Linked DNA regions of Homo sapiens. The protein of the gene in region 1 purifies or fractionates together with the protein of each later gene. This does not show direct contact. Each region holds a gene or a part of one and is shown on either strand. Other genes may lie near its edges.

Region 1 (11,286 bases):
GCGAGAAAGCGAGACTCCATCTCAAAAAATAAATAAATAAATAAATAAAAAATTAAGAATCAGCTAGGCGTGGTGGTGTGCACCTGTAGTCCCAGCTACTCAGGAGGCTAAGGTGGGAGGATCACTTGAGCCCTGGAGGGTGAGGCTGCAGTGAGCAGTGATTGTGCCACTGCACTCCAGACTGGGTGACCCAGTGAGACCCTGACTCAAAAAAATAAGAAAGAAAGAAAGAAAACCAGAGAAGCAAATAGAAAACAGGGTTTTCGTTGTATCATGCCGACTAAACTATGAGCTTTTTGAGACAGGGTTAGTGTCTGATTCATGAACACATACACACACAGGAATACATTCTGCACCCCACAAGCATGTCAAGTCCCTTAGCAAGTACTGGAAGAGTGGGTCACCTCCAGAGAAGGAAACTGTATGGCTCATCCCTCTCCTACCCCAGGATCAGGGACGTGTTCATCTCTCCCGCCCCCTCAGAGCCCAGCTACCTCACAGACATCTCTTTGACAGTGGGAAGGTTAAGAGGGAGTCAGGGTTCGGGAAGGGCTAGTCCCTCCCCAATCCAGCTGCCGGCCCTGGGGAAGAGATGATTAATAAAGGTTCCTGTTTACTAAGTACCTGGAACATTCCAGACACAATGACAAAGACTCAGTGTGCCACAACCTACTTAATTTCTAAAAACACAACCCCAGGGAGATTATCGTCTCGGTGTTACAAAGGAGGAAACAGAGGGTCTGAGAGGTGAAGCCACTTACCTAACATCACCCCACACAGCGCTGGGGTTCTAGCTCTGGTTGGATCCCAGTGCCTTGGGGCTTATCCCCTACACACTTGCTGGACTACAAGCTCATGATGGCAGAGACTGGGGTTGTCATGGTTATGATTATGTCCCCAGCACATGGCCTGGCACACGACAGACGCTCCAGAAACATTCTTTGATGCTTGGACTGAAGAATGTTAGTTGGGATTTTTTTAATAGTAATTTTTTTTTTTTTTGAGACAGGATCTCACTCTGTTGCCCAGGCTGGAGTGCAGAGGTGTGATCTTGGCTCACTGCAACCTCTGCCTCCCAGGCTCAAGCAATCCTCCTGCTTTAGCCTCCCGAATAGCTGGAAAACAGGCATATACCACCACATCTAGCTAGTTCTTTTTTCCTTTTAGTAGAGATGAGGTCTCACTGTGTTGCCCAGGGTGGTCTCAAATTTCTGGGCTCAGGCAATCCTCCCACCTCAGCCTCCCAAAGTGCTGGGATTATAGGCATAAGCCACCACACCTGGCCCCTTAATCATAAACATAATATCTTCTCTCTCTGTTTTATGTTAGATCCGGGCCGGGCACAGTGGCTCATGCTTGTAATCCCAGCACTTTGGGAGGCTGAGGTGGGTGGATCACCTGAGGTCAGGAGCTCAGAACCAGCCTGGCCAACATAGTGAAACCCACTCTCTACTAAAAAAAAAAATTAGCCGGGCGTGGTGGCGTGCGCTTGTAGTCCCAGCTACTTGGGAGGCCGAGGCAGGAGAATCACTTGAACCCGGGAGGCTGAGGTTGCAGTGAACTGAGATCTCGCCACTGCACTTCAGCCTAGGCAACAGAGTGAAACTCCGCACTGCACGCCCTCCAAAAAAAAAAAAAAAGTTAGATCCAATGGTTTATCTGGGCTTTCTCGGATTTTTTTCACAATGGTCTCAGCTTATATGCCCCTTCCTCCAGGAAGCCCTCTCTGATACCCTGTGTCTGGCCAGTGACCTCCTTCTGGGCTCACACATCCTCCTGACCACTCTGAACTGTGACTGTCGGCTGATTGGTCTGTCTCTTTCATGGGCCTGGGAGCTCCATGAGTGTCTTGGTCACTGCTGTTTCCCCAGCAAAGCTAACATAGGACCAAATACATGGTAGGGGCTTAGGGAGTGATTTTTGTCTCATTAGAAGAATAGGATAGCACACCTGTAATCCCAGCACTTTGGGAGGCTGAGGCAGGAGGATCACTTGAGCCCAGGAGTTCAAGACCAGCCTGGGCAAGATAGCAAGACCCCATCCCTACCAAAAAAAGAAAAAGAAAGAGAACACAATTTTAAAAAAAGGACAGGATGGTGAGAAGGAAGGAAGGAGGAAAGGGAGAAAGGAAGCTGAGCCTTTACGGTCAGAGAGGATTTCAAAATTAAGGGAGAAGGAAGCACGGGTATGCTGGGCAGTGGGAACGGCTTGAGCAATGCGTGGAGGCAGGACAACAGAAGAGTGTTCAAGGAACAGTGTGTACTCAGGCCTAGTTACAGCAGAGGGGGTCAGGAGGAGGGAAGGAAGTCGATTCTGGGAAGGCGCCTGGAGACCGGAGGCTCCAAACGCAGCACTGAGCCCCTGACTGCTCTCAGAGAGGGCACCTGAGCAGACAAAGCTGGGCCATGGAGGCAGATTCTGGAAGGATGAGAAAAAAACTGGAGATAGGGAGGCCTGGGAGGGAGACAAGTTAGGAACAGATCTACACACTGGAGGGTTTAAACGATGGGTTTGAAACTCAGCCAGAACTGAGTTAGAATCCTGGCTCTGACTTGACGTGGCCAACCCTAAGCAAAGAATCTCTCACCTCTCTATGCCTCAGCTTCCCCATCTGTTGTTTTTGTTTTTTTTTTTTTGAGACCGAGTCTTGCTCTGTCACCCAGGCTGGAGTGCAGTGGTGCAATCTCGGCTCACTGCAACCTCCGCCTCCCACATTCAAGCGATTCTCCTGCCTCAGCCTCCCAAGTAGCTGGGATTACAGGTGCCCGCCATCACACGCCTGGCTAATTTTTGTATTTTAGTAGAGACAGGGTTTCATCATGTTGGCCAGGCTGGTCTTGAACTCCTGACCTTAGGTGATCCCCCTGCCTCGGCCTCCCAAAGTGCTGGGATTACAGGCTTGGGCCACTGAGCCTGGCCCCCATCTGTTGAATGGAGACAATCTCAGTGCTGTCATAAGGACTCAGAGTTAACACATACAAAGCCCTTAATTAAGATAGATGCTATTTTAAGATAAAAAATGACAGAAAAAAATTGACAAAAAAGACTAAAAAAAAAAAAGAAGAAAAAACTTAAAACAGTGTCTGGTGTACAGTAAGGATTAGAATTATTTGATCTGCATCTTGCAAGGTGATATCCTTGGACAAGTGACTTGAATTCTCTGTGCCTCAGTTTCCTCATCTGTAAAAGGGGATAATAATAGTATCTACCTCAGCCGGGTGCAGTGGCTCATGCTGGTAATTCCAGCACTTCGGGAGGCTGAGGCGGGTGGATCACTTGAGGTCAGGAGTCTTGAGGTCAGCCTGGCCAACATGATGAAACCCTGTCTCTACTCAAAATACAGAAATGAGCCAGGTGTGGTGGCGGGCACCTGGTGTCTCACCTACTCAGGAGGCTGAGGCAGGACAATCACTTGAACCCAGGAAGTGAAGGCTGCAGTGAGCCGAGATGGCACCACTGCACTCCAGCCTGGGCAACAGAGCGAGACTGTCTCAGAAAAAAAAAAAAAGTATCTACCTCATTAGGGTTGCTGCGAGGAGTGAGTGAGTTAATAAAAGCACAGCACTTAGCACAGGGCTAAACATGAGTGAGTGCTAATTGTTGTTGTTATTATTATTATTATTATTATTATTATTCACCCACTTCCAGCTCAGCTGTTCTGAGATGCCAAGGAAGTGAGAGGGCAGGCAGAGAGAAAAAAGCAATGGGGCCCAGGAGGGTCAGCCCCTGCACACAGGCACAGGCACGTCAAGGCAGGTCTGTCTCTCACAGCTAGGGCCACATGTGTGAACACGTCCCCAAGGAAGGCATGTGGGGTGAAGCGGGGCTCAGGGCAGACTCCAGCCAGGGGCCCCAGAGCAAAAAGAGGCCTCAGCAGGCAAGCTGGCAAGCTGATGGACTCCGGACTCGGCTCCCAGCCCCACGGCTCCCAGCCCCACGTGAGGCTCTCCAGTTTCACACCGGCCTCTGCTCTGTCCCGCCCTCCCTGAACCTGCCCGGCCGGTCCTCCTGATTCACCAGGGGAGAGCCACACCCAAGCTGGGGGTGACGGTGGACAAAGTAAACAAGAGTGTTCAGGGGGCTCCTTGGGGATGTAGGGGTCACAGGGGAGACCAGGTGGGCTCCCGGCTAGGCCAAGGATCCTTTGGCGTTTGGGGTCACACAGCCCTTTTGCGAATCTGATGCAAGCTGGGGGAATCGCTTTGCTCCCTAGAAAAATGTACATACAAATAGGCTAAGGGGTGGTGAAGGTTTGTGACCCTTTAAGACAGCCACAGGCCCCAGATTAAGAAATGTGGGGTAGAAAGTGCACCCTGCCTGTCTCCCTATCCCAGTGTTCTTCAGATTCCAGAGGATTAGACAGATGTCAGACCGTCGCTGCAACAATGTATGTGAACACGCACGGCAGGCTCCTTAGTCCTACAATTTCAGGGGTTCCTGGGCCCCATAAAGTCGGTCAGTGGCCCTCCATTGTAGACCCCCAGGAGTGGAGACAGTGCAGGAAGGGGAAAGGAGAGAATTAAGAAGGGGTGCCTGGAGTGAATTAGTAACCTGGCTGTCAGAGGGAGGAGGTCAGTGGATGGAAGAGGTTCCCGGAGATGAAATTGCTGGTGGGCAACTAACAGTAAATGGGTAGAGAACTTCCTAAGCAAAGGCGGAGGAATAAGGAGTTTTGCGTGATGTGGCTCAAGGGCAGGATGGGTCCCACTCACCCCAGACCTGTCCTCGGGATCGCTGGCACCTCCGCCCCCGGCCACCACGTCATCCTCAGACTCGTCGAAAGAAGAGGCAGAGGAGAAGCCGCCGCTGCCCCCCTCAACCCGGGAGGGGGGTCCCACTGGCTGGGCCTCAGGCTCAGGGGTCTCAGGGGTAATGATGAGGCGGGGCACAGGGCACAGGGGGCTACACTTCAGGTGAGAGTACAGGTGAGTCAGCAATTCTCCAGGCTCTGGTTCCTCTAATGGGCCATCCTCAGGCTCTCCCAAGAGGCAGTCTGTCCCAGGTGCTGTCTGGGAACCGTCAGTGCTAGGTTGTGTCCAGGAGCCATCAGTATCCTGTTGTATTTGGAAACCACCAGTGCCAGGCTGTTTCCTGGCTGCTTCAGTATCCTGTTTTTTCTGGGAGCCATCAGTATATGGCTCTGTCCAGGGACCTTCAATATCCTGTTGTGTCCTGGAGCCATCAGTATACAATTCTTTCCAGGAGCCATCAGCACTTGGCTCTTTTGAGGGACAGGCTCCTTCTGGGTGAGTCTGGAGGCTGGAACTGTTCTGGTGGGTCCAGAGGTTATCAGCCCAGGACTTGACCCTCTCTGGCTGAGTCTGTGACCCATGCGTTTCCAGCTCTGTCCAGGGCCCATGAACCCCTGGCTGTGTCCAGGGGCTGGCCTCCTCGGGCTGAAACTGGAGGTCGGACCTGTGCGGATCAGTCCAAAGGCCATCTGTCCCGGTCTCCGTCCAAAGACAAGTCGTCTCCAGCTCTGACCAGCTCCATTCTAGATGCGTCCGGAGGCTGGACCTGTCTGGCTCCGTCTTTTGCTTGGGCCTCTCGGTCTCTACTCCAAGGCCAGCTGCCGCGGGCTCAGTCTGTCCGTCTGTCCAGAATTCTGCCTGCGGACTCTCTGTCCCCGGCGCAGGCCCGAGGCCGGCCCTCTCAGGCTCGCTGTGGAGGCTGGACCCCTCTGTCCGGGCCCAGGGCCCGCCCCCCTCCGGCCGCCCCGCCGGGGCCCCTGCGCCGGGCCCAGGTCGCTGCTGTCCCGGCTGCCGCCGCCGCCCTCCTCGCGGCGCCTCCAGTCCCATGCGGGCCGCCGCGGGCAGCGCCCCGGCCTCCGCCTCGTTCAGGCTCCCACGGCACGGGCAGCGCCTCATGCCCGCTCCTTCGGTTCGGGCTTCGGCCGACCCGGCCCCTCCTATCCCTTTAAATCCCGCGAGGGGTGTGGCTGGGGAGCCCCGACTCCCGGGTTCCGGCCCGCGGAGCTCCAGCCCGCCCCGCCGCGCAAGGGTTAACCGATACTCCCCTCAAAGGGGAAAGCCCCGAAGCCCCGCCCCACCGGACGTGACGGAACGGAACGAGACGGAGCCTTGTCCGACTCCGCCTCCCAAGGGGAGGGGGTTTGCCTCTGAGCATCCGAAGCGCGGCCAGGTATGCATCTAGGGCACCGGGGTCCTGGTGGCGCGCCAGTGGGCCCCCTCCCTCCACCCCTGTGACTAAACCACCCTCCCTACACGGTTGAATGACAAGTTCAACCTTCCCTAAAACCCCCGGTGACGAGTCCAGCCGCGCGCCCATTCTTCACGCAGGGGCGGGACGGACTTTCAAAGACTTGGAGTTCCCACGGGTGTGGGTTCGAGACCTTCCTCTGCCAGTTCCCAGCTCCGCTACCCTGAGCAAATGACTTACGCTCCATTGGATTTTCCGTAAGAAATCTCTGTCATGTATAGAGTACTTGTTCTGTATCAGACCCTGACACGATTTCAGTTCATTCTCCAAGGCTGAACAATAGGGATGCCAGGGCTCCATTTTACACGTGAGAACAGAGGCTCAGAGATCTGCCGGCCTCTACCCTTTGCTTGCAGCTACGGGGCTATCTGACATGATCTCATGTATGTGAAGCATGTGGCCCCGGGCCTGGCACTGTCAGTTGTAGCCCAGTAGGATTATTTATTGTCCTAGGTGATTTTGATATATTTTGCCCCCAAGGCTGAGCTGCCACCCAGCTCCTGAGTCAGCCGTTCACCTCTGAAGGGGGAGAGGAGGTGGTTTGTCTTGAAATTGAGTCAACTGGGGGAGACATTGGGCACAGGTCCAAGGCTCTAAAATGAGTCACCTTTTCACAGACCAATGAGAGAAATCGAAGGCAGGAGCCCACCTAGTACCTCATACAGGTTGGGAAGGAGAAGTCCAGAGAGGGATGAGGGCTTTTCTGAGGTCACACAGTACGGGAATAGAGACAAAGAGGCCTGATTCCCGACAAGAGGGGTTGGGGCAGCGGGGTTCTGTGGGGGAAGCATCGGCATCCCTCCCTCTCCCAGTGGTGGGAAAGATGCCCCAACCAGATGCCTCTATTCCAGACTGTGAGAAGTGGGTGAGTCAGCCTGTTGTGGGGAGAGCAGGCTTTCCAACGCGCGCGCGCACACACACACACACACACACACACAGAGAAAGAAAGATAGGATGGGAGGTGGTTTTCTGGGATGCCAAGGTTCCTGACTCAGCACTGGGAATCTTGGCTGAGTGTGTTCTGGGAAATGTCAGGCCTACAGGAAGCAGAGGGCTCCCAGTCGCACCATTCCGCAGGTGGGCGGGGAGCGGAGAGAACAGGGTGTGTGAGGGAACAGAGACTCAGTGTGCAAGTGGGGGGGAGGGTATGTACACGAGAGAGTTGAAGGCGTGAGCGGGAAACAGTTGGCAAGCAAGGCAAGGGATTTATATGCACAAGGAAGGAGGTTGGGTGCCAGAATGTGGGTGTTTGTGCAAAGTGGAGGGGCTCCATGTGCAAGGGAAATGTTTGCTGGGAAGAATGTGTATTCAAAGGAATTGTGTTGAGCCTGCCAGGGGTAAAAATAAGAAGGGGGGTTGGCAAGATATTCGTGCAGAAGAGAGGCGTCAGGTTTGTAAGGGAGACTTTGCAAGAAAGTGTAGGGAACAGAAGGGTCTGTCGCGTACAAGGCACTTTGAGGTGAGTGGAAGGGCAGACAGGGCACGCTTGCGCTCCCGCGATGCCTCAGCAATCCCCCCAGATGGGCCCCCGATGCCCACCTTAATTCCAGGCTCCATCGCTAGGGCCTCTCTCTGGCCCCTTCCCCCGCGCACAGATGGAGAAACTCCGTGCCAGTCAGCGAGTTGCTGCCGCGCCATTGGTTGGCTGGCCGAAGGGGGCGGGCATACAGAGGCTCCCGGAAGCACAGGAGGGCCCCAGCAGGTTGCGGACTCGGAGGCTGAGAGCAGTGGGTGCTTAGCAACGGGGGGAGGTGCTCAGTAACGGGGTGGGGATCGGGCGGGGGGACACCGGAGGAATTGCGGGTGCCTACAGGGCCAACAGAGGGGAAGGCGGTGCATAGCAACGAGGGGGGTTTCAGAGAAGTGGAGAGGTAGCCCCTGAGGAACTGTGGGTGTCTAGTAACGGGGGCGGACCCTAGCAACGGCGAGGGTTGGGAGAGGGGGGAAAGTGGGTTTTGGGAGGCCTGCAGGAAGAGCTAAGGGTTCCTAGCAACCAGGGGAGAACCAGGAGAAACTGTGGGAATCTATTAATAGTGGAGGAAGTATTTAGTGGGTGGGAATGAGAGAGGGTGGACACAGAGGAACATGGGGGCCTGGCCAAGAAGCCAGGCAACTCCCACCTGAATAATCCCTCCTCTTCTCCTCCAGGCAATGTGGCTGAAGGTGGGGGGCCTACTTCGGGGGACCGGTGGACAGCTGGGCCAGACTGTTGGTTGGCCTTGTGGGGCCCTGGGGCCTGGGCCCCACCGCTGGGTAAGAGGCTAGGGAGCAGGTCCCCAAGGGGAAGAGGCTGAGGGAGACTTCAGAGGGTAAAAGGACAGGAGGGGTCCAGAAGGGCCAGGTGATCCCATGTCCTCCCCTCCTTATCAAAGTATATCTCTTGCAGGGACCATGTGGAGGTTCTTGGGCCCAAAAGTTTTACCAGGATGGGCCTGGGAGAGGCCTGGGTGAGGAGGACATTCGCAGGGCACGGGAGGCCCGTCCCAGGAAGACACCCCGGCCCCAGGTATCATTACCCCCACCCACCCAGCAACACCCCACGAATACTGCTGGCCCCCTGAGCTTGGGGAAGGGTGTGGTGGCAGAGTGGCTGCACTCTCTGGCCACGATGCCCACTTTCCCACCCTCAGACCTTGTCCCCATTTCCCAGCTGAGTGACCGCTCTCGAGAACGCAAGGTGCCTGCCTCCCGCATCAGCCGCTTGGCCAACTTTGGGGGTAGGTGTGACTTTGGGGGATCTTGGTGTGACCTCAATTAGAAAGGGCAACATTTACAGATTGAAGCAAGGGAGAGGATGAATCAGAGACAGGAAAGAGAGAGAGACAAAAAAAGAGAGACAAAGGCAAGGGCCTGCAAGGCCAAGAGAAATCAAGAGGAACATAAATGATAATTTTTTTTTTTTTTTTTGAGACAGAGTCTCACTTTGTCACCCAGGCTGGAGTGCAGTGGCGCGATCACTGCAGCCTCAAACTTCTGGGCTCAAGCAATTCTCTCGCCTCAGCCTCCTGAGTAGCTGGGACCACAGTTGTGCACCATCCGCCCGGGTAATTTTTTTTTTTTTTTCCTTTGAGACAGAGTCTCGCTCTGTTGCCCAGGCTGGAGTGCAGTGGCACCGTCTTGGCTCATTGCAACCTCTGCCTCCTACATTCAAGCAATTCTCCTGCCACAGCCTCCTGAGTAGCTGGGATTACAGGTGCCTGCCACTATGCCTGGCTATTTTTTTTTTTTTTTTTTTGAGACGGAGTATCCCTCTGTCACCCAGGCTGGAGTGCAGTGGCGCCATCTTGGCTCACTGCAACCTCCACCTCCCGGGTTCAAGCCGATTCTCCTGCCTCACACTCCCAAGTAGCTGGGATTACAGGCATGCATCCACCACACCCGGCTAATTTTTGTATTTTTAGTAGAGACGGGGTTTCACCATGTTTGTCAGGCAGTGGTAGAGCTTTGGCACCAGGCTGCCCAGGGTTCAAGGGATGACTCTGCTATGTCCTCGCTTTGTGATCCGCCTGCCTCAGCCTTCCCAAGTGCTGGGATTACAGGCGTGAGCCACCACACCTGGCCGCCTGGCTAATTTTTGTACTTTTAGTAGAGACAGAATTTCACCATGTTGGCCAGGCTGGTCTTGAACTCCTGACCTCAAGTGATCCACCCACTTCGGCCTCCCAAAGTGTTGGGATTTACAGATGTGAGCCACGGTGCCCGGGAAGCCACTGTGCCTGGCCTGGGTAATTTAAAAAATATTTTTTTGTAGAGATAGGGTCTCCCTATGTTGCTCAAGTTGGTCTCAAGCGATCCTCCTGCCTCGGCCTCCCGAAGTGCTGGGGTTCTAGGCATGAGCCACTGCTCCTGGCCATAATAACATTTACTGAGAACCTGTAATGTGCAGTGTCCCATATACACACATGCTGCACTGAATCAATGAGTGTTCTATTCCGTACATGAGGACATTGAGGCTAACAAAGGGGAGGTCACTTGACTTTGGGTTACACAGCCGGATGTCGTGCAAGTCACATGAAATAATTTAGTGGGTTGCAACCAGCATTTAAAAAGAAGAATAGGACAGAAAATATGCATGCACCTGTAGAGCAAGGGAAAGTCTTGTTTCGTGAAACATATACCTTGGTCTGCACTGGTTATAACGTAAATGTCTTCTTATTGCTGATCATGGTTCAAGTTTTGTTTTTGTTTTTGTTTTTGAGATGGAGTCTTGCTCTGTCACCCAGACTGGAGTGCAGTGGCATGATCTCAGCTCACTGCAACCTCCACCTCCCAGGTTCAAGCAATTCTCCTGCCTCAGCCTCCTGAGTAGCGGGGGTTACAGATGCACGCCACCACGTCCAACTATTTTTTGTTGTTTTTTTTTTTTTTTTTCTTAGGGAGACAGGGTTTCACCATGTTGGCCAGGATGGTCTCGATCTCCTGACCTCATGATCCGCCTGCCTTGGCCTCCTAAAGTGCCAGGATTACAGACGTGAGCCACTGTGCCTGACCGCTAATTTCTGTATTTTTAGTAGAGATGGGGTTTCACCATGTTGGTCAAGCTGATCTCGAACTCCTCACCTCGTGATCCACCTGCCTCAGCCTCCCAAAGTGCTGGGATTATAGGCGTGAGCTACCATGCCCCGCCTGGTTCAAGTTTTAAAAATATAGATTCACTTGCTTGTACCCAGGAGGTAGAGATTGCAGTGAACCAAGATCGCACCATTGCACTCCAGCCTGGGCAGCAAGAGTGAAACTCTGTCTCAAAAAAAAAAAATCTATATATATATACATAGATAGATTCACAGTCTGCAGAGGCAGTCAAAGGCACTGGTTAGAGCTTTGGCACCAGGCTGCCCAGGGATTAAGGGATGACTCTGCTGTGTCCTCGCTTTGTGACGTGACTCTGGGCAAATTACTTCACTTCTCTGAACCTCAATTTCCTTTTCTGTAAAATGGAAGTTTTCTGTAAAATACATTTTATGAAGGTGGAGACCTCATGTAAGGACAAAAATTAGTAAGTGCACAGAAGGCACTGGGAACAGCCCCTGACATGTAGAAAGGACACAGAAAATGCCAGATATGGTA
Region 2 (9,858 bases), on another chromosome or scaffold:
TGTCCTAACAGTATGGTGGGTATGAGGCAGTCAGAATCCAGGGTGTGAGCTCCAGCAGATGCTTGGATCACTGTCTACCCCTCAGGGGCTGCTGCTCCCTACCTCACTGACTGCCTTTTTTTTTTTTTTTTTTTTTTTGAGACAGAGTCTCACTCTGTCCCCCAAGCTGGAGTGCAGTGGCGCGATCTCGGCTCACTGCAAGCCCTGCCTCCCAGGTTCACGCCATTCTCCTGCCTCAGCCTCCCGAGTAGCTGGGACTACAGGTGCCCACCACCACGCCCGGCTACCTTTTTGTATTTTTAGTAGAGACAGGGTTTCACCATGTTAGCCAGGATGGTCTCAATCTCCTGACCTTGTGATCTGCCTGCCTCGGCCTCCCAAAGTGCTGGGATTACAGGCATGAGCCACTGGACCCGGCCTGCTTTTCATTGTTTTTTACTTTTTGTTTTGAAATAATTTTAGACTTAGAGAAAGTTGCAGAAATAGTAGAAAATTCCCATGTATCTTTCATCTAGCATCTCCCAATGATTACATCCTACAAAGCCATACTGTAGTTTATCAAAACCAGGAAATTGCCGGGTGTGGTGGCTCATGCCTGTAATTCCAGCACTTTGGGAGGCTGAGGCAGGCAGATTACCTGAGGTCAGGAGTTCGAGACCAGCCTGGCCAACATGGTGAAACCCTGTCTGTACTAAAAATACAAAAATTAGCCAGGCCCGCTGGTGCCCACCTGTAATCCCAGCTACTTGGGAGGCTGAGGCAGGAGAATCACTTGAGCCCAGGAGGCGGAGGTTGCAGTGAGCTGAAATCACGCCACTGCACTCCAGCCTGGGCGACAGAGTGAGACTCCGTCTCAAAAAAAGAAAACCAGGAAGTTAACATTGATAAACTACTACTAACTAATCTACGGACATTCAAATTTTGCCAGTTTTCCCGATGATGTCCTTTGTCTGGTCCAGGGTCCCATATTGCATTTTGTTGTGGTGTTTCCTTCATCTCTGTCAGCCTGTGACAGTTTCTTGGTCTTTATCTTTCATGACCTTGACACTTTGGAAGAGTCCAGGCCAGTTATTTTATAGAATATTCCCCAGTTTTAGTTTGTTTAATGTTTTTACATGATATGATTGAGGATCTGCATTTTTGCCAAGACAACCACAGAAGTGATACTGTGCTATTCTTAGTGCCTCCTAGCGGAGGGTGGTGGTAACTTTTTGTTTTGGTTTTTTTTTTTTTTTTGAGACGGAGTCCCGCTCTGTCACCCAGGATGGAGTGCAGTGGCGCAATCTCGGCTCACTGCAACCTCTGCCTCCTGGGTTCAAAGTGATTCTCCTGCCTCAGCCTCCTGAGTAGCTGGGATTGCAGGTGCCCACCACCACACCCAGCTAATTTTTGTATTTTTAGTAGAGACAGGTTTTCGCCATGTTGGCCAGGCTGGTCTTGAACTCCTGACCTCAGGTGATCCACCCACCTCGGCCTCCCAAAGTGCTGAGATTACAGGCATGAGCCACCACACCTAGACTAGGTGGTGGTAACTTTGATCACATGGCTAAGGTGGTGTGTGCCAGGTTTCTCCACTGTAAAATTAGGAATTTTCCCTTTGAAATTAACAAGAATCTTCCACTTTGAAGCTATGTGAATGTCTTATTCTTAAAATTTTGCCTACTGATTTTCATTTCCATCATCAATGATTCTTGCTTATAACAGGTATTAATGTTATGCTTGCCTAATGGTGACTTTGTTTCATTATTTTACCTGTATTTATTAATTGGTATTCTACTATAAGGAAGAGCTGTCCCTTTTCCCCATTTATTTATTTGATAATTTATATCAGTATGAATGAGTGGATATCTGTTTTATTCTACAGGCTACAATCTAATGCTAACAGTTTATTTGGTTGCTCAAATTGGCTCAGATTTGGCCAGTGAGAACTCATTGAAGTTGGCACTGTGTTGTTTCGACATTGCCCCTGTCACTTTTTAAGCATTTTCTGGCACCACAAGATGTTTCAGGCTTCCTCACATTTTCCCTATCTCAGCCCTGGCATCAGTCATTCTCTAAGAAGCTCCCAGTTCCTTTTATTCCAGAAAAAAGGAACTTAGAAACCAAGTTGTTTCTTGATGCCACTGGAAACCAAGATCTGGACAGAATATATACTCCTGGCTAGAGTATCATTGGCGGAGTGTCATTGCTTGTAGGCCTGCTCAGCAGACAGAGCTAGAAAACATATATGTATATATGTTAAAACATGCAAATACAAGCACCTGAATTTATTATTCTATCCATCTGTATGTTATTAAAAACCGTGAGCCAGGTATGGTGGCTCGTGCCTGTATCCCAGGACTTTGGGAGGCCAAAGTGGGAGGATCACTTGAGCCCAGGAGTTCAAGACCAGCCTGCGCATCATAGCAAGACCTCATCCTCCAAACGTTTAAAAAATAAAAAATTAGCCAGGCATGGTGGTGCATTCCTGTAATCCTAGCTACGTAGGAGGCTGAGGCAGGAGGATCGCTTGAGTTCAGAAGGTTGAGGCTGTAGTGAACTGTGATTGTACCACTGCACTGCAGCCTGAGTGACAGAGCAAGACTCCGTTTCATATTTTTAAAAATAAATAAAAATCATGAGTTTAGATACGGTTTTAATTCAATACCATAGGGTTTGCGACTGCCATTTTTATAACCTTACTATTCTTTTTCTGCTTTTTCTCCTGCTATCTCTGTTTCTGCTCCTTTCTATTTGATGTTTAGACTTCCCATAGAGGCTCTAGTTAAGTCAGCTAGTAACCAGCCTGTGTGCAGTATTCCTACTAGATAGAGGTCTTATGCCCGGCTGTCAGTCCGTTGGTTCAGTTAACTGTGGCCAGGAATACTAGGCATATAACTTAAAATCAGATAACTTTTATACAAGAAAAGCCAATGGCCACCTTCCTGAGAATAGGATAAGGAGACAGGGGTAGAACCTTAGATTCTAAGGAACCTAATTAAGAATCACTTCTGGCCGGGCGTGGTGGCTCATGCCTGTAATCCCAACACTCTGGAGGCCATGTAGGGGCAGATCACGAGATCAAGAGATTGAGACCATCCTGACCAACATGGTGAAACCCCATCTCTACTAAAAATACAAAAATTAGCCAGGCGTGGTGGCGGGCGCCTGTAGTCTCAGCTACTCGGGAGGCTGAGGCAGGAGAATCGCTTGAACCCGGGAGGTGGAGGTTGCAGTGAGCCGAAATTGTGCCACTGCACTCCAGCCTGGTGACAGAGCCAGCCTCCGTCTCCAACAAAAACAAACAAAAAAAGAATTACTTCTTCCAGAGATTCTCTGCCAGAACTCCTAGGTGGTGTTGGACCCATATCTTTTACTTCCATAGCATCCCAGGCTCAGCTCACTTGTCCTACTTGTTCTGTGTCTTCATCACTAGAATGTAAGTTCTAAGAGGGCAGATGCCAAGCTGTTCAGCCATTCACAGAACCTGGCACAGTGCAGGCATATGACAGATGTTCCTTTATTATTATACTTGGGTGAGTGGATGGGACCTGCAGCAAGTGCAGATCTTCTCAGTGGGCTCTGGAACAGAAAAGTATTGTTTGTTTGCTCAGCATATTTTTATTTGTCCCATGTTGCTGTGGCCAGGATTTGAGCTCTGAGACAATGCAGCAAGGTGAGACCCAGATTTCTTTTGTTTTGTTTTGTTTTTTGAGACAGAGTCTTGCTCTGTCGCCCAGGCTGGAGTGCGGTGGTGCAATCTTGGCTCACTGCAACCTCCACCTCCAGTTCAAGCAGGTCTCATGCCTCAGCCTCCTCAGTAGCTGGGACTACAGGCATATGCCACCATACCCAGCTAATTTTTTTTGTATTTTTAGTAAAGACGGGGTTTCACCATGTTTGCCAGGCTAGTCTCAAACTCCTGGTCTCAAGTGATCCACCCACCTTGGCCTCCCAGAGTGCTGAGATTACAAGCGTCAACGACTGTACCCGGCCCCAAATTCCTTATTGAGGATCCTAGAATACATGAGACCAGACTTGGAAATGAAAGTGTAACATGTTTATTGTTCAAAAAGAAAAACTCAAAGGTGTGTAGTGATTTTAAAATTTAGGGAAATTCCTCAATATAGTGAAAGAAGAAAAACAAGAAAGAAATTTAGGAAAGAAACACACTTAAACCATAAAAAATAGAAAATGGACCAATAAAGATAAAAGCTAAACTTAACAAGGTAGGAAAAAGAAAAAGAATAAATTAAAAAATTCTTTGAAAGCACCAATAAAATAGATAAAACCTCCTGAGCCTGATAAAAGGGGAAAGGAGCCAAAAAAATTAACAAAATTAGGCATGAGAAATTAGACATAACCATATATATTGAGGAATTGAGAAGAAGAATAGAACTCTATGGCAACAAATTTGAAATCAGAGGAAATGGATAATTTCCCAGCAAACACTGATCCTAGAAATAGTTTGAATAGGCCAGTTGGTTACCCAAGAAGAAACTGGAAAGGTGGTTAAAATTTTATCCTTTTTGAGCACCATAAGATGGTGAAAAATAAATAAAATTTTATCCTTGTAAAAGATTGATGGCCAGGCATGGTGGTGGCCCACACCTGTAATCCTAGCACTTTGGAAGGCCAAGGCAGGCAGATCACTTGAGCCCCGGAGTCTGAGACCAGCCTGGGCAACATGGCAAGACCCCACCTCTACTAAAAATACCAAAATTAGCCAGGCATGATGGTGCTTGCCTGTAGTCAACAGCTACTTGGGAGGCTGAGGTGGGGAAGATGGTTTAAGCCCAGGAGGCAGAGGTTGCAGTGAGCCAAGACTGTGCTGCTGCACTCCAGCCTGGGTGACAGAGCGAGACCATGTCCCAAAAATAAAAAATTGTTTTTAATTAAACTTTTTAATTGAAAAATATATGGGAAATTGTACAAATCACAAGTATGCAGCTCAGTGAATGATTACAAAGTAAACACACTCCTATAGCCATCACTCAACCCCCAAAATAGATGAGTTTTAACTATTATTGTACTCAAACCTGATAAAGTGCCAGAAAGAATGCTATAGCCTAATCTCACCTATGGCCATAGATGCAAAAATCCCAAATAAAATCAAGTTGAATTGCACACTCTGATTACATAAGGTTTATTTTAGCAATGCAAGGCTCAGTGTCAGGAAATTTATTAATTTATTACATCAAGAACTTAAATGTTATTTAAATGTCTAGAGAGTGCTAGTGTTGTTAAATTTTCTCATTTTGATAATTATACTATGATTACAGAAGAGAACGTCCTTGTTTTCAGAAAATGTAAGTATTTAGAGGTTAAAGGTAAACCTCTAATTTGGTTTGCCAGTATTTCAGATAACTACACACACACACACACACACACACACACACACGGAATGATAAAGCAAAAAGTAAGGTGTTGGCAAGGCATGGTGGCTCACACCTGTAATTCCAACACTTTGGGAGGCCCAGGCAGGTGGATCACCTAGGTCTGGAGTTCGAGACCAGCCTGGACAACATGGTGAAACCCCTCTTTATTAAAGTACAAAAATTAGCCGGACATAGTGGCACATGCCGGTAATTCCAGCTATTTGGGAGGCTGAGGCACAGGAATCCCTTGAACCTGGAGGCAGAGGTTGTAGTGAGCCTACATCACACCACTGCACTCCAGCCTGGATGACAGAGTGAGACTGTCTCAAAAACAAACAAAAAAAAGATGTTAACATTTGGGAAATCTGAGGGAATGATGTACATGAATTCTTTGTATTGTTTTTGCAACTTTTAAGTATAAAGTTATTTCAGGCCAGGCATGGTAGTGCATGCCTGTATACCCAGCTACTCGAGGCTGAGGTGGAAGATTCCTTGAGTCTAGGAGTATGAGGTTACAGTGAGCTATGATCATGCCACTGCACTCCAGGCTGGGTGGCAGAGTGACACCCTATCTCTTAAAAAAAAAAAAAAAAAAAAAAACAGGTGCAGTATCTCACACCTGTAATCTCAACAGAACACTGAGGGGTCAAGGCAGGTGGACTGCTTGAGCCCAGGAGTTCAAGACCAGCCTGAGCAACATGGTGAAACCCCATCTCTGCAAAAAATTAGCTGGTTGTGGTGGCATCCACCTGTGGTCTCAGCTACTTGGGAGGCTGAGGTGGGAATATAACTGGAGCTCAGGAGGTGGAGGTTGCTGTGAGATGAGATCGTGCCACTGCACTCCAGCCTATCTCCAAAAAAAAAAAAAAGGCTATAGTAGAAGCCTATTAGCATGGATAAGTGTCTGAATAAAAGATAACTGTACAAAAATCAATTGTTTTTTCTGTATTCTAGCAATAATCAACTAGAAACAGTATCAAAAGAAAAACATTCCATTTACAATTGCAACAAATAGGTATATATATATTTGCTCTTCTACACATAACCTATTTCTGGAAGGGAGCAGAACTGGGCAATTCAGGGACAGCAATGGAAGGGGAACACTGCTATGTTATTTTAAATACTTTTTAGTAAGCTTTGAACCATATTAATGTATTACCTGTTCAAAATTATACTTAATAAATTTAACAAGAAAACCATATTGAAGGGCATAAAAATAAGACCTGACAAGTGAAAAAACATCAAGTTTTAGAAAGGATGATTTAATACTAAAATATACATTTCTTAATATATAACTTAATGTAAACCTAATAAATAATTTAATACAAATCTAATTGACAGCACTTTTAATTAAATAATGTTAAGGTCATACTGCACTACTATGTCCAGAGGCGATGCTACATGGAGCTACTGTTTTCTGGGTCTAGCCTCTCAGGAAATAGTCATTACTACTTTTGCAATCCCATCTTGACAGTATGCAAAAATTAGGGAAAATGTAAATTTATTATTAACACACACCCTAAATACAATTATGAGAGAAAGGAAAGAGAAGGGTTACTGTCTGTGGCTGGAGTATAGTAGCTGTGTATGAGTGTGGAGAAGAGAGGAAATTGGTGGAAAATGAAGCTAGAGAGGCAAGTTTCCTGATTTCAAAGTGCCCTGAATGCCATGCTAAGGGAATGAAATGACCAGATTTGTGTTTTAAAAGACCCTTTGTTTGCATTGTGTAGAATGATTTGGGATGACTTCTGACCAATATACAACAGAGAGTAATTTCAGGCAAACTCTCTTCCACCTCAAACAGAAATATTTAATATATGTAATAAGACAAGAAAGTTTAATACACAACTAGACTTGAAACCAAGAATGGGAAATCCCAGCCATGTACAGTGGCTCATGCCTGTAATCCCAGCACTTTGGGAGGCCAAGGCAGGCAGATCACCTGAGGTCAGGAGTTCAAGTCAGCCTGGCCAACATGGTGAAACCTTATCTCTACTAAAAATACAAAAATTAGCTGGGTGTGGTGGCATGTGCCTATAATCCCACCTACTGGGGAGACTGAGGCAGGAGAATTGCTTGAACCAGGAGGCAGAGGTTGCAGTGAGCTGAGATCACACCACTGCACTCCAGCCTGGGTGACAGAACGAGACTCCGCCTCAAAAAAAAAAAAAAAAATCTTAAAATGTTCAGACATGGAGAGAAGACTAAAAAACATAAAGCAAGAAAGGGCAGTAAGAAAAAATAGTAGGTATATTTGAAAAAGAGGCTTCATTCTGAGTGATTTTCTCAGATTAATTTTCGTCTTTTATGCATTTCTACAATTTTTTCTAGTGTTGTGGTCCTAATTGACTTAGATATTAGATACTAGGAGTAATAAGGACTCATATTCTTAAAGGAGGAAGATTTGGGTCATCCACTGGACAACAAACCATAGTGGTCTAAGGCAGTGACACAGGACAAGGGGAATATGGAATGGTCAGGGAGGGCAGTCACCAGTGTGACCCTCCAGAGTCATGATCAGTTGCAGAGATAAGGAATATAGCCTCAACCACAATCCTGAAACCATTAGCCCACCATCCTCTTAAGAGTCTTCAAGTCTAATACCATCCCTCACAGATTCGTTATAGTAATCCCAAGAAGTCTGACCCTAACCTCAGTGGTCATCTACCACCACATCATCACATACTGCTTCCCTCTCCAGCCTTTCCACTGTGTCCTCCAGCACTTCCTTTCTAAAATCGGTAGATTCTTTTCTATATGCACCTTGTATTTGGAATATTTGCTTCACTTCTTCATCTTAACTGTCCCCTAAAGACACAGCTTACTCTGGCTGTCCCCTAAGACTGCTTACCTGTAGCCCTCTTAGGCAGAGGCTGCTTTCATTGTTAGACCCAGAAGTGAGCCTCCACTGCTCCTCCTCAATTAGTTCTCATCCTTCCTCTCAGCTCTTTTGAATTCATCAGTTCGACTATACCAGCCTTTCTCTAATTGTCCTGCCTACTGATCTCCCAATCACTGTGTCACAGGGAAGATTTTAGTACCTGTGTCACTTTCTCTCTTCCCCAGCACATGCCATCATTCTTGGTGGCTTCAACCTTCCATGAATGACCTAAAGCCCTGCTCTCCTCACATTTAGTGGTCTTTTTTCTGCCCCTGCCCACCTAAATCACCTATGTTATGGTCACAGTCTAAATTTCATCACAAGTAATTAAACTTCCTCCGAAGCCCCTATCCCTCTCTAGCCAATTATCTTTCATCTTCCAGTTCACTTATATGAACTGGAGTACATTCTGTGTGTAATTCTGTGACCTTATTGATACTTCTAGTCCATTAACCCCAACCTTCTTATTGCCCATCTGATCCCTCTTTCTCCAAGTCCACTTAAATCTCAGGGCCCATCATTATAATCTCTCTCTTCCAAATATTCTCAGAATCTTCAGACTTAACCCAACAACAATATAGATCTTCCCAAACCTGTATTTTCAAAAAAAACTTCACGCTACGTAATGCCACCTATCCCTTGCACAGAGCAATTTACTCTTACAAAGATAAACATAGCAAAGTCTCATCAGTTGCTACAACTTGTTCCATATCAAGGATCTCTGTGTGATGAGCATTCTTCCTCTGGTTCTATCATAACCCTATTTAGATATATTTTAACCTGTGGGCAAAATTGAGAAGTCAACCAACACAATCTACATAAAATACTAGGGCAAAGCGAGGAAAAGGAAGGAAAAAAGAGAAAAAAGTATGGCAGATTAAGCACTATATAGTATGCTCCCCACCTTAGACACCCCCCACACACACAAAAAAAAAGAGTAAAATAATTTTTTAAAAGGTAAATACCCAGAGGATTCTGGGAAGATGCCAGAGTAGGAAGCATCAGGAATCTGTCTCCCCACCCAGACAATTACAGTGGCAGAATTTGTCTGATGTAACTATTTTGGAGCTCTGGAGTCTATTGGAGTTCTGCGACTTCCCAGGGAAGGCTTAGATGATAAATTGTGGTTAATTTTGTTCAATTTCAACTCTTAGCACAGTAACAACTACCCATCCCCCACCTCCCAGCCCCATGGCAGGCAGCTGTGCACGTGTTCCTAGAACAGCTGGAATGCAGCTTCCAGGAGCCAGGAGGGGCAAAAGGACCCTGTCTTTCAAATACTTAGGATCTGTGCTCTGATTGCTACTTCTGATCACAGGCATAAAAAGAGGCAGAGACCATTATTCTTATACCTCCTCCCATTGTAGCAAGCCCCTCTGGCTGAAGTGCTGTCTAGGATTAATGTGCTTGCACCCTTCCCTCCCTCTTCATTTTTCTCTTTTACTTCCTGTTGGTAGCCAGACATTTAAGACTAGGATATTCAAAAGCAATTGCATATACTGGGAAATTTAGAAAGTAATCATAATGTCTTAGAGAAGATGCAGAGTTAGTAATTTTTGTATTTTTAGTAGAGATGGGGTTTCACCATGTTGGCCAGGCTGGGCTCAAACCCATGACCTC

What was found.
Region 2: the proteins of COQ8B (region 1) and CLPB purify together in Homo sapiens (affinity purification with mass spectrometry; 2 studies listed by BioGRID and IntAct, with this or other methods). This does not show direct contact.

Annotation. Positions count from the first base shown.
Region 1 is NC_000019.10:40,711,717-40,723,002, reverse strand, and holds the start of COQ8B (atypical kinase COQ8B, mitochondrial), read left to right. Parts: upstream 1-6,116; 5' UTR 6,117-6,416; intron 6,417-7,883; exon of another isoform or gene 7,884-7,950; intron 7,951-8,367; 5' UTR 8,368-8,370; coding exon 8,371-8,472; intron 8,473-8,605; coding exon 8,606-8,725; intron 8,726-8,869; coding exon 8,870-8,936; intron 8,937-11,286. Other genes in the region: ITPKC (inositol-trisphosphate 3-kinase C), read right to left, coding at 4,713-5,867.
Region 2 is NC_000011.10:72,282,323-72,292,180, reverse strand, and holds the end of CLPB (mitochondrial disaggregase), read left to right. Parts: 3' UTR 1-6,686; downstream 6,687-9,858. UniProt on the Homo sapiens protein: Functions as a regulatory ATPase and participates in secretion/protein trafficking process. Has ATP-dependent protein disaggregase activity and is required to maintain the solubility of key mitochondrial proteins.